2 linked regions of the Homo sapiens genome follow. The protein of the gene in region 1 purifies or fractionates together with the protein of each later gene. This does not show direct contact. Each region holds a gene or a part of one and is shown on either strand. Other genes may lie near its edges.

What was found.
Region 2: the proteins of PPP2CB (region 1) and CTTNBP2NL purify together in Homo sapiens (affinity purification with mass spectrometry; 7 studies listed by BioGRID and IntAct, with this or other methods). This does not show direct contact.

The regions. Positions count from the first base shown.
Region 1 is NC_000008.11:30,802,168-30,807,114, forward strand, and holds part of PPP2CB (serine/threonine-protein phosphatase 2A catalytic subunit beta isoform), read right to left. Parts: intron 1-4,947.
Region 2 is NC_000001.11:112,447,159-112,452,105, reverse strand, and holds part of CTTNBP2NL (CTTNBP2 N-terminal-like protein), read right to left. Parts: intron 3,165-4,947; coding exon 2,934-3,164; intron 1-2,933. UniProt on the Homo sapiens protein: Regulates lamellipodial actin dynamics in a CTTN-dependent manner. Associates with core striatin-interacting phosphatase and kinase (STRIPAK) complex to form CTTNBP2NL-STRIPAK complexes.

The sequences.
Region 1 (4,947 bases):
CAATGAAGTCTTCCAGAAAACATGGGTTCTCTTCAGTTTTAATCTAATTGTGTAATCTTAAGGCCTTTATACCCTTCAGTTTCTTTTCCTGAGATCACAAATTAAACAATAATTTTACCAGAAGCCAAGTTTATTCCACAAAACAGCTCCCAATACACCACAAACATTCTGCACACCACATATTTTTTGCATATGAAGAACATGGCTGAGGAGATTATATACAGAAACATAATGGTTGTCTGGGAGGTAGGAGGGCAGGGGACAGGAATGGTGGGTAGAGTGCATTTGCTTTCCTTGCTACCTTTCTGAGGTGCTTGCACAAATTTTCTTTGAGACAGGGTCTCGCTCTGTTGCCCAGGCTGGAGTGCAGTGGTGTGAACGTAGCTCACTGCAGCCTCAAACTCCTGGGCTCAAGCAGTCCTCCCACTCAGCCTCCTAAAGTGCTGAGATTGCAGGTCTGAGCCACCGTGACTGGCCAATGCTCGAAATTTTAAAAAACAAATTCTGTATTACTTTTTCAAACGGAAAAAACCTGGCTTCTTAAACTTCAAAACAAATTCCAGATGGCAGTAATTATAAAATATCCACACAATGGAATTTTATTCAGCCATAAAAAGGAACGAAGTCCAGATACATGCTACAATATGGAGGAATCTTGGATATATTATGCTAAAAGAGAGAAGCCAAACACACAAGACATAACCCTGGAAATGAAATTCAAATCAAAAGTACACGGAAGAACCGACTGTGGGAATGCTGACAATGCTGCTGTTGGAGAGACTCCAAATATGCAGCCAGGAACTTAGCAACACGCAGAAACTTAGTGACATAAAGAAGTGAAAATCCAAACTTATTGCATAAATGAGGAAAATTGTTTTGGAAGAAGTGATGCTAGCAAAAATCTCTTTCTGTATTTGTCAGGAAAGATCACTTTTACTTCGGCTCCTAAATAAATCAGACGAACAGTTCCTAGGACTTTATAGGTATATTTAAGATTATCTCTTGTATCTCACTAGCTTTTGTTTTTTTTTAAGACATGGTCTTAATCTTCTTGACAAATACAGGTATTTCATGACACTGAAAGCACAAAGGAGGCCGGGGGCAGTGGCTCACACCTGTAATCCCAGCACTTTTGGAGGCCGAGGCAGAAGGATCACTTGAGTCCAGGAGTTCAAGATCACCTTGGACAACATGAGGAGACCCTGTCTCTACAAAAAAATGAGTAAAAAAAGCCAGGTGTGGTTGTGTATTCCTGTAGTCTCAGCTACTCAGGAGACTGAGGCGTGAAGATGGCTTGAGTCCAGGAGTACAAGGCTGCAGTGAACTATGATCATGTTACTGTACTCCAGCCTAGGCGACAGTAAGATCCTGCCTTTAAAAAAAAAAAAAGCAGCTTCCTGGACCTGCCCAAGACATGTCAATCAGTCTCTGGAATGGAGTCAAGGAACATGAATTTCCTATTTCTTTCCCAAGTGATTCTCATGTGCGCTTAAAGTTTATGGAAAAGATGGACAATCAGACTATACAAAAATGCTAAAACTTGCACAGTAAAAATTATACACACATATCACAAAGTAGAAAATAAGACCTTAAACATTTTTAAATGGCTAACTTTTGGAGAATTTATACAACCAAGAAAAGACAAAATACAATTTTTTTTTTTTTTTGAGACGGAGTCCTGCTCTGTCGTCCAGGCTGGAGTGCAGTGGCGCGATCTCCATCTCAGCTCACTGCAACCTCCGCCTCCTGGATTCAAGTGATTCTCCTGCCTTAGCCTCCCAAGTAGCTGGGATTACAGGCGCGTGCCACCACACCCAGCTAATTTCTGTATTTTTAGTAGAGATGGGGTTTCACCACGTTGGCCAGACTGGTCTCAAACCCCTGACCTCGTGATCCGCCCGCCTCGGCCTCCTAAAGTGCTGAGATTACAGGCATAAGCCACTGTGCCCAGTTGACAAAATACAAACTTAAAACAAAAAAAGAATATGCCAACTCAACTGGAAAAATCCCTCACATTGCACACACTCCACAATTCTGATAAATCTAGCCTTGTTTTCTTCATGTATTTTGGTATTGCCATTTATTATTATTAAGGTTCTCGTCCCTCAGAATTTGCTATGGAATAAAAATCTGTATAGTGAAGAATTAACCTCACCCGAGGAGAGGTCTGGCCTTTGCCCCTGGAATTTCCTGCTTGGTAAAGAGATCTCTGCCTGGGGGCTCTGACCTGCGGACCATTAACAATGTGACTCACGATGCGGACTTTGGATGATCCCACTATCAGTTTGGTCTCTGGAGGACTGGACACTACAGATGTCAGCCCCTCTTGTACTCTGCCCTTATGAGTCTTTTCCCTTGGCTTACTTTAAATTGTATTCATTCCCTGTAATAAACCATAATCATCAGTGTAACAGCTTAAAGTGAGTTCTGTGAGTCATTCCTGTGAATCACTGAACCTAAGAGTGGTTTTCGGAACCCACTGAACTAGTATATTGGTGCCAAAACTGAGGCAGTCCTGGGCAGTGTTCCCTGTAATTTATAGTTCACTGAACTTTATTTTTTGTCTGCTGTTCTGAAGGTACATCATGACTAAACTTTTGAAGATGGTGTCAGAGGTGAGAACAGTGTTAGGGACTGTGCCTTCTAACTCTCGCAAAATCCTTTTTAATTACAAAAGTAAACCACATTATAAAGAATTTGGAAGGTTTTCTATGACCACCCTATTAAAAAAAAAAGAGTCTCTTGAATTCAAGCCCATCACTGTCCCCATCTTCTGCTTTTTCTTGCCAGCAAGAATCAATGCCTGGTGTTCATTAATCGTGTCCCCTCTTCACAGCTGAATCTCTAGCACTTTGAACAGTCTGGTACATAGTGGTTCAACTAAAATCTGTTGAATGTACGGGATAACTACACAGTGGCAGCATTCTGTCAACCAATCCTCTCCTTTCTTCTTCACTGCCCACAGGAACAAGCGCCTCTTTTGCTACTCAAGCCAAGTCGAGAATACACTGAACCAATTCTGAGCTCTCATCATCCAGGACATAAATATCATGCGGAACTCTTTTAAACGAAGATGAAAATTATTTCCCTCTCTATAAGATGGGATTTTGAGCTGGGCGCAGTGGCTCACGCCTGCAATCCCAGCACTTTGGGAGGCTGAGGCAGGCAGGTCACAAGGTCAGGAGATCCGAGACCATCCTGGCTCACATGGTGAAACTCCATCTCTATTAAAAACACAAAAAATTAGCCGGGAGTGGTGGCAGGCACCTGTAGTCCCAGCTACTCGGGAGGCTGGGGCAGGTGAATGGCATGAACCCGGTAGGCGGAGCTTGCAGTGAACCGAGATGGCACCACTGCACTCCAGCCTGGATGACAGAGAGAGAGACTCCATCACAAAAAAACAAAAAAAAAGAGATTTTGAGCAAAATTAAACTACAGCCTACACACCGTATCCTGCATATTAAAAAAAATCCAACTATGCTAAAAAGTTAATTCAAATAAGCTTTTTTCTAAGATTGAATAGGTGAGAACACTTAAATTCACCACTGTATCCCAGTCTCAACATAAAAACGATTGTCTTTGTATAAAATATTCACTTAATAGATCTCCAATGGAGTCTTCCACATTTTTGGTGTAACATGATGCTATTATAACGCAAGTCAGGAATCTCAGGTTGCACCTCAGGATTGTCTTTTAATTCATTTGATCACAAAAGTATCTCAGTCAAAAAACAGTTTACAAGGAATGATGATAAATATTTCTAAATTACAAAGGACACAACAGCAAACCAGTTCTAAGCTTGAGTGCTTGAGCTCTCCCATTCTCTGGAAAGGAAACGGAATCTGTAATACACAGAACTCCTTCCCAGGGTTAATATGATTTTTTTTTTTTTTTTTTTGAGATGGAGTCTCCCTCTGTCACCCAGGCTGGAATGCAGTGGCGCGATCTCGGCTCACTGCAAGCTCTGCCTCCTGGGTTCACGCCATCCTCTTGCCTCAGCCTCCCGAGTAGCTGGGCCTACAGGCGCCTGCCACCACGCCTGGCTGATTTTTTTTTTTTTGTATTTTTAGTGGAGACGGGGTTTCACCATGTTAGCCAGGATGGTCTGGATCTCCTGACCTCATGATCCGCCTGCCTTGGCCTCCCAAAGTGCTGGGATTACAGGCGCGAACCACCATGCCCGGCCGTTAATATGATTATTAATGAAATTTAGAGTTGAAAAGTAACGTACAGGAACTATTAGATCACATTTGGTCATTAAGGAAGAAAAGATGTCTTCATACAAGTTTCTTTAAACAATCTGGATTAGGTTTACATTTCATTACATTTACTTGAAGGAAATCAGTTCAAAACAATAAAAAATTTCTATTTAACACAGACTCAGATTTCTTATACAGATTACTTCTGTAACTTTAATATCATTCTTCTTAGAAAAAACTACATTCAGAAAACAATCTAGGAAAATTAATTAAGCATTAATTCCATCTTCAATTTCTGGCATTTTCATTTCCTTTTACCAAGGAAGGGCTTCATTCACCAAGTCTTTTATAACATTCGTACTGAAGAGAAAAGACTGTGAAGAAAAAATTTCTGCAAGATCTTCAAATAAGAATAAAAGGCACACACGGCAATAAAAGCAGGCAATGAAAAGAAATTTTACATTGCAAATATCTTCACTTTATCTACTTAGGTAAATATCTTATGGCAAGGGTATATTATTGTTAAAGGGCAGTATTAAGTATTAAATATATTTACCTAGTCATATATATTTGACACGTCATATATAAAGTAGAGAAATGTAACAAAGTCCACTTTCCCGCCATTAGCAATAGTTCATGCTAGTCTAGTTTGGTTTAATTTCTTTACCTGTCCACTAAGAGGCTGGCTTAGCAAGGAAAACAATGATTTGTTCAGTCACTAGAATTGGGTCTTGACCCTCTATTTCAC
Region 2 (4,947 bases), on another chromosome or scaffold:
ACATGCTTTTGGCCAAAAGTGGTAAGTCTTATCTTCTCCCTTTTGGGAGTCCTCAAAAATTACAGAAATGGAATAAAAAGACTAAAACCCCACAAAGGAGAGAGCCTCTAGCAGAGAAAAAATTTTAATAATATTTTGAAGAAGAAAAGAGGCTGGAGTTGTGGTAACTACTTTACTTTGAAGGAGGGAAGCTGTTTTGCCTTGCAGAGCCCCAAAGAGATGGAACCTGGAGGTGGCAGGTACTGCAGAGGAGAGGTGAAATGTAGAATAGAAAACAGGAGAACTGGCTCAAAGCCTGTTTTTTTGTTTGTTTGTTTTGTGTTTTTTTTTTTTTTTTTGAGACAGTCTTGCTCTGTCACCCAAGCTGGATTACAGTGGTGTGATCTCAGCTCACTGCAACCTCCACCTCCTGGGCTCAAGCTATTCTTCTGCCTCAGCCTCCCGAGTAGCTGGGATTACAGGAACGCCACCATGCCTGGCTAATTTTTGTATTTTTAGCAGAGATGGGGTTTCACCATGTTGGCTGGCCTGGCCTCGAACTCCTGACCTCAAGTGATCTGCCTGTCTTGGCCTCCCAAAGTGCTGGGATTACAGGCATGAGTCACTGTGTCTGGCCTTCAAAGCCTGTATTTTCAGAATTATTTGTCCCTTCACCCTGATTCCTGCACACAGACCATCAGCATCTGGCCTCTGTCACATCTACTATTCCCAAATCCTGAGCCTGTCACATTCAAGAAATAGTGTGACAGGCTCAGGATTTGGGAATAGTAGATGTGACAGAGAATGGTGGTGGGAAAAGAGGATTAAATTTGTTCTGGGTAAGGGTTAAGGAGAGGAAAGGGAGGCGGGGTGTAAGATAACTAAATCTGCACCTATATAAAAGAAAGTAATATAAATGTCTAAAATTGATAAAGCAAGAGAGAACAGTGCAGTATTTAGAAATATGGAGGTTAGCTACCAAAGTGAATGGCTAAAAGAAAAAACTGGTTGCCTGTGAATACTGGGGAGGATGGGGAATGAGAAGAGGTGGAATAGAAAACTGTTTTTCATTGTAAGCACAATGACCATGTAATTTATTATTCAAACCAGAACATTTCTGACAGTCAAAGGGAATATGGTTAATAACTAAGCCAAGGTGACAGGCATAAGCTGAGACTATGAGCACCCTAATTATAAGCCTCTAGGTACTGTTTGATTTCTAACAAAGTCAGTCTTCTACTTTGATAAACCACTTAAACTTGAACCTGGGAGGTGGTGGTTGCAGTGAGCCAAGATTGTACCACTGCACTCCAGCCTGGGTGACAGAGTGAGACTTCACCTCAAAAAAAAAAAAAAAAAGAATAGATAGGTACTTTGTTTCAAAAATTTAATATTCACTTAAAACATTTAGCACTGCAATATAGTATTAAGAAATTTTGAATTATTTTTAACTTCTTCCTCTCTCCAATCACCTAGAAACACAAACTGTCCCTAGTACACCTTCCATGGGCATGAAAGCTAGCCCAACTAGCTTCAACACAACTCAGTCACCTCATGGATGAAGTGGAAATAAAGCCTGCCTATTAAACAAGAATGTTGTGAAGATTTTTAGAGAATTATGTAAAAGCTCCCCCTCCACCCAATTTAGGCAACTAACTCCCACCCACTGATACCTTTTAAATTGGAGTGTAAATGTTTTCAGATTACTTCATTCTAACCAGAGGTTAAACATTTTTGGGTCTTGGGTAACTTGGAGAATCTGATTAAAGCTATGGAAAAAATACATTTCCTACAAAAATGCATAAACTCTGAACATTCTGTCTATTTTCTGGGGGACTGTGGAACATCTGAGGCCTATCCATGGTTAAGAAGTTCCACTCTGGCCTTTCATTTGGCTTCTGTGAAGGGAAAGAAAAGATCACGGGCAAGATCCAGAGCCTAGAAAATGTATCAGATGCAATTTAAGAAGATGGCTCTAATGCTGATAACCATAAAAGTAAGGTCCACCAAATTTTGCAGCTGCTAACCCTATTTTTCAGATGAAAATGTTTCCTACCAAATGCACTGATAACTGCCTTGTTGGCATAAATCTAAACTGACAGTGTTTTAAAAATGAAGATTGTAGCCAAGCATCTTTTACAGGCCAAATTTGAGGAGTAAATGACAAGATGACAAGTTGGTGAATAAATTCACAAGCACTAGAATTCCAGTAAGATGAAGCAGAGGAAAGCACAGGTTTGCCTTCTTAGGGCTTGTTAGAAATGGAAACACACACACACACTCTTTACTAATAGGGTAGAACAGCTTTAAAGTAAATACTGTAAATAACCATAAGGTTTGCCTTCCTATTTTAGGGCTTGTTAAATATGGAAAACACACACACACACACACACACACACCCCTCACTAATAGAGTAGAACACCTTTAAGGTAAATAAACCAAGGGACTGTTTATGGTTTCATGAGCAACAAAATGCAATGAAACTCAAAACTAGGAATAATAGGAATAAATGAAAATAATCTATTGGCTTCTGTGTTTATCCTCAGGTAAATTCTTTCTCTCCCTTGGATATAGCATGCCTCAAATACCTGTTAATCTTTTTATTTATCTCTTAAGTAAGCAAATAGAGAACACTCCCGTCAGCTACAAGCTTGGCCAAACCCCAAAGTTTGAATGATCAAGAACTGAAAAAACATACAAAGTGTTTTGGAGTGACATATCAAGAAGAAATGCTGTCTTAAATAACGTGTCTGGCACGTTCTCTAAACTTAACATTTGCAATAAGCTGTGTTTTCTTTTTTATCTCCTGGCTCTTACATAAACTAAGGGGCTTTTTGATACCCGTGAGATGTCCCAATTGAATTACTGTGAAAAACTGGCAGCTGACAAGAAAGTATCAGGCATAATTTATAAAGACTTCACAAAGATTTACACATCAACTGAGGTGAACCTACCTTTCGGTGCCTGCTCTCAGCAGCAGCCAGCTGGGACAGCATGCGCTCCTGCATGTTCTTGCACTGCTTCATCACAACCTTAAGAATAGAGAGTGGATTTGTGCAGACTGGCTGCTTTTCGCCATCATTTTTCTCCTTCAGTGTTTCAAAATCTCTCTGTAGAGCCATTAAAGGATCACTGATGTTATATTTTCCATAGCGTTCTTCAATGAAAGTATCTCTGTGTTGGGCCTGGGAAAGAGGAAAAAAAATAAGCATCTTGCTTTTTAAAACTACTGAGGAAGGGGGATTTGCTATCCAGTGGTTATACATTAAAGGTTGTGGTATTAGTATAAATGTAACCTACTAATTACAAGTCAGATTGAGCCATCTAAAGAAACAGCATTAGAAAGGTGGCATGGTATATTAACAAGAACAAATACTTATAAAGCACTATGTATTAGACATTGTTTTAAATATTTATAGTCAGATTAACTTGTTTAAAATTTACAACCCTGTAAGGTAGTGCTATCATCTCGATTTTGCTGATGAGAAAACTATTCCTGGTTACTCATCTAGCAAGCTGTCTGAATTGGGATTTAAACCCAGGCAACCTGGCCCCGAAGTCTGTGTCCTTAACCTCTGTGCTTACTGACTCTGCTTATATCTGCTTATGAATGCTTATATTACCAGCAGGTACATCTTATTTTTTTCCGTGTTATGGTACTAGCATTTCTAAAACATGTTAAGTATGATAATTTTATGAGTTTATATATTTAGAGACCTAACAAAATGCCAGCAGATATATAAAGTGTGCAAAATATAAGCAGGATCACATTACAATCTAGGACTACTTGTGACCTGTACATATGAACCATTACTCAGTTGTTGATGGGTCAAGGAGGATGGAGGCACCTCATAACCAGACATGCAGACAAAACCTCTTCCACCTGCTGCCAAATTCCACCCCCTCTTCTTGTCTCTGGTTGTTACTTTCCATTCTCTTTTCTGTCTCTTTCAAGGCTTGATGAGCCTTGGGGATGAGCATGTAAGAAAGGGATGCAAGCTGGTGCCTGGAGTCTGGTCAAGGACGTTAGCCCTGGGTACCCAGTTGGGAGTATAAGGATCAGGAAGTGGGTGGAAAGATATTCCTAGGCTTCCCTCTTTCCTTATCTCTGTAGGAAGAGCTTGAAGAACTCCACATGAGCATCATACATTACATGTACATTACTTTTTACTTATTACACAGATATTTAAAAGTTTCTTGAGATATTTTACAATGAAAAATGAAGTGTTAACACAGGGTTGAAGAAACTAAAAAGTCACAGCAAAGTACTATATAATTTAAGCTTTCAAATTAAATCTGGTTATGAAAACTACTATTATTTATCCATTTTAAAAAACTAATCAGTAGTCATGTTTTCTTAGCACTGCCATCCACAAATAGGAGCCTGTTTAAAAAAAAGGGAAATTTGCAATTCATTGGCTATGCTTTAATTTAAAGGAAACTTTAAGAAAATAAAGCAAACATGGGTTTTTTTTTTAACACAGAAGTATTTCAGTGCTGAAAATCTGAAGACTTCTTCTTCATTGACTGTCCAATTTAGGCCCCAGGAATCACTTAGCCTTATGGTAAAATTTTACGTTCTTATCAGCTGGCAAATGTTCAAAGCAGTTAGAAATTCTGGGTTTTACTTCTGGCTTGACTGCAGCCATCTTACTTTATGACATTACTGGAGTATTTGGATGTTATTTGTATACTGGAAATATGAAGAGAGAAATCCATTTCTTTAAGTTACTAATAACTATCTTTCTAGCCTTATGGTGTGTTGTGTGTGTGTGTGTGAATTAAAAGTGGGGGAGGTATAAAACACAGAGTCTAAGATGAAACTCTACTTTTTTTTTTTTTTTTTTTTTTTTTAGATGGAGTCTCGCTCTGTCGCCCAGGCTGGAGAGCAGTGGCACAATCTTGGCTCACTGCAAGCTCCACCTCTTGGGTTCACGCCATTCTCCTGCCTCAGCCTCCCAAGTAGCT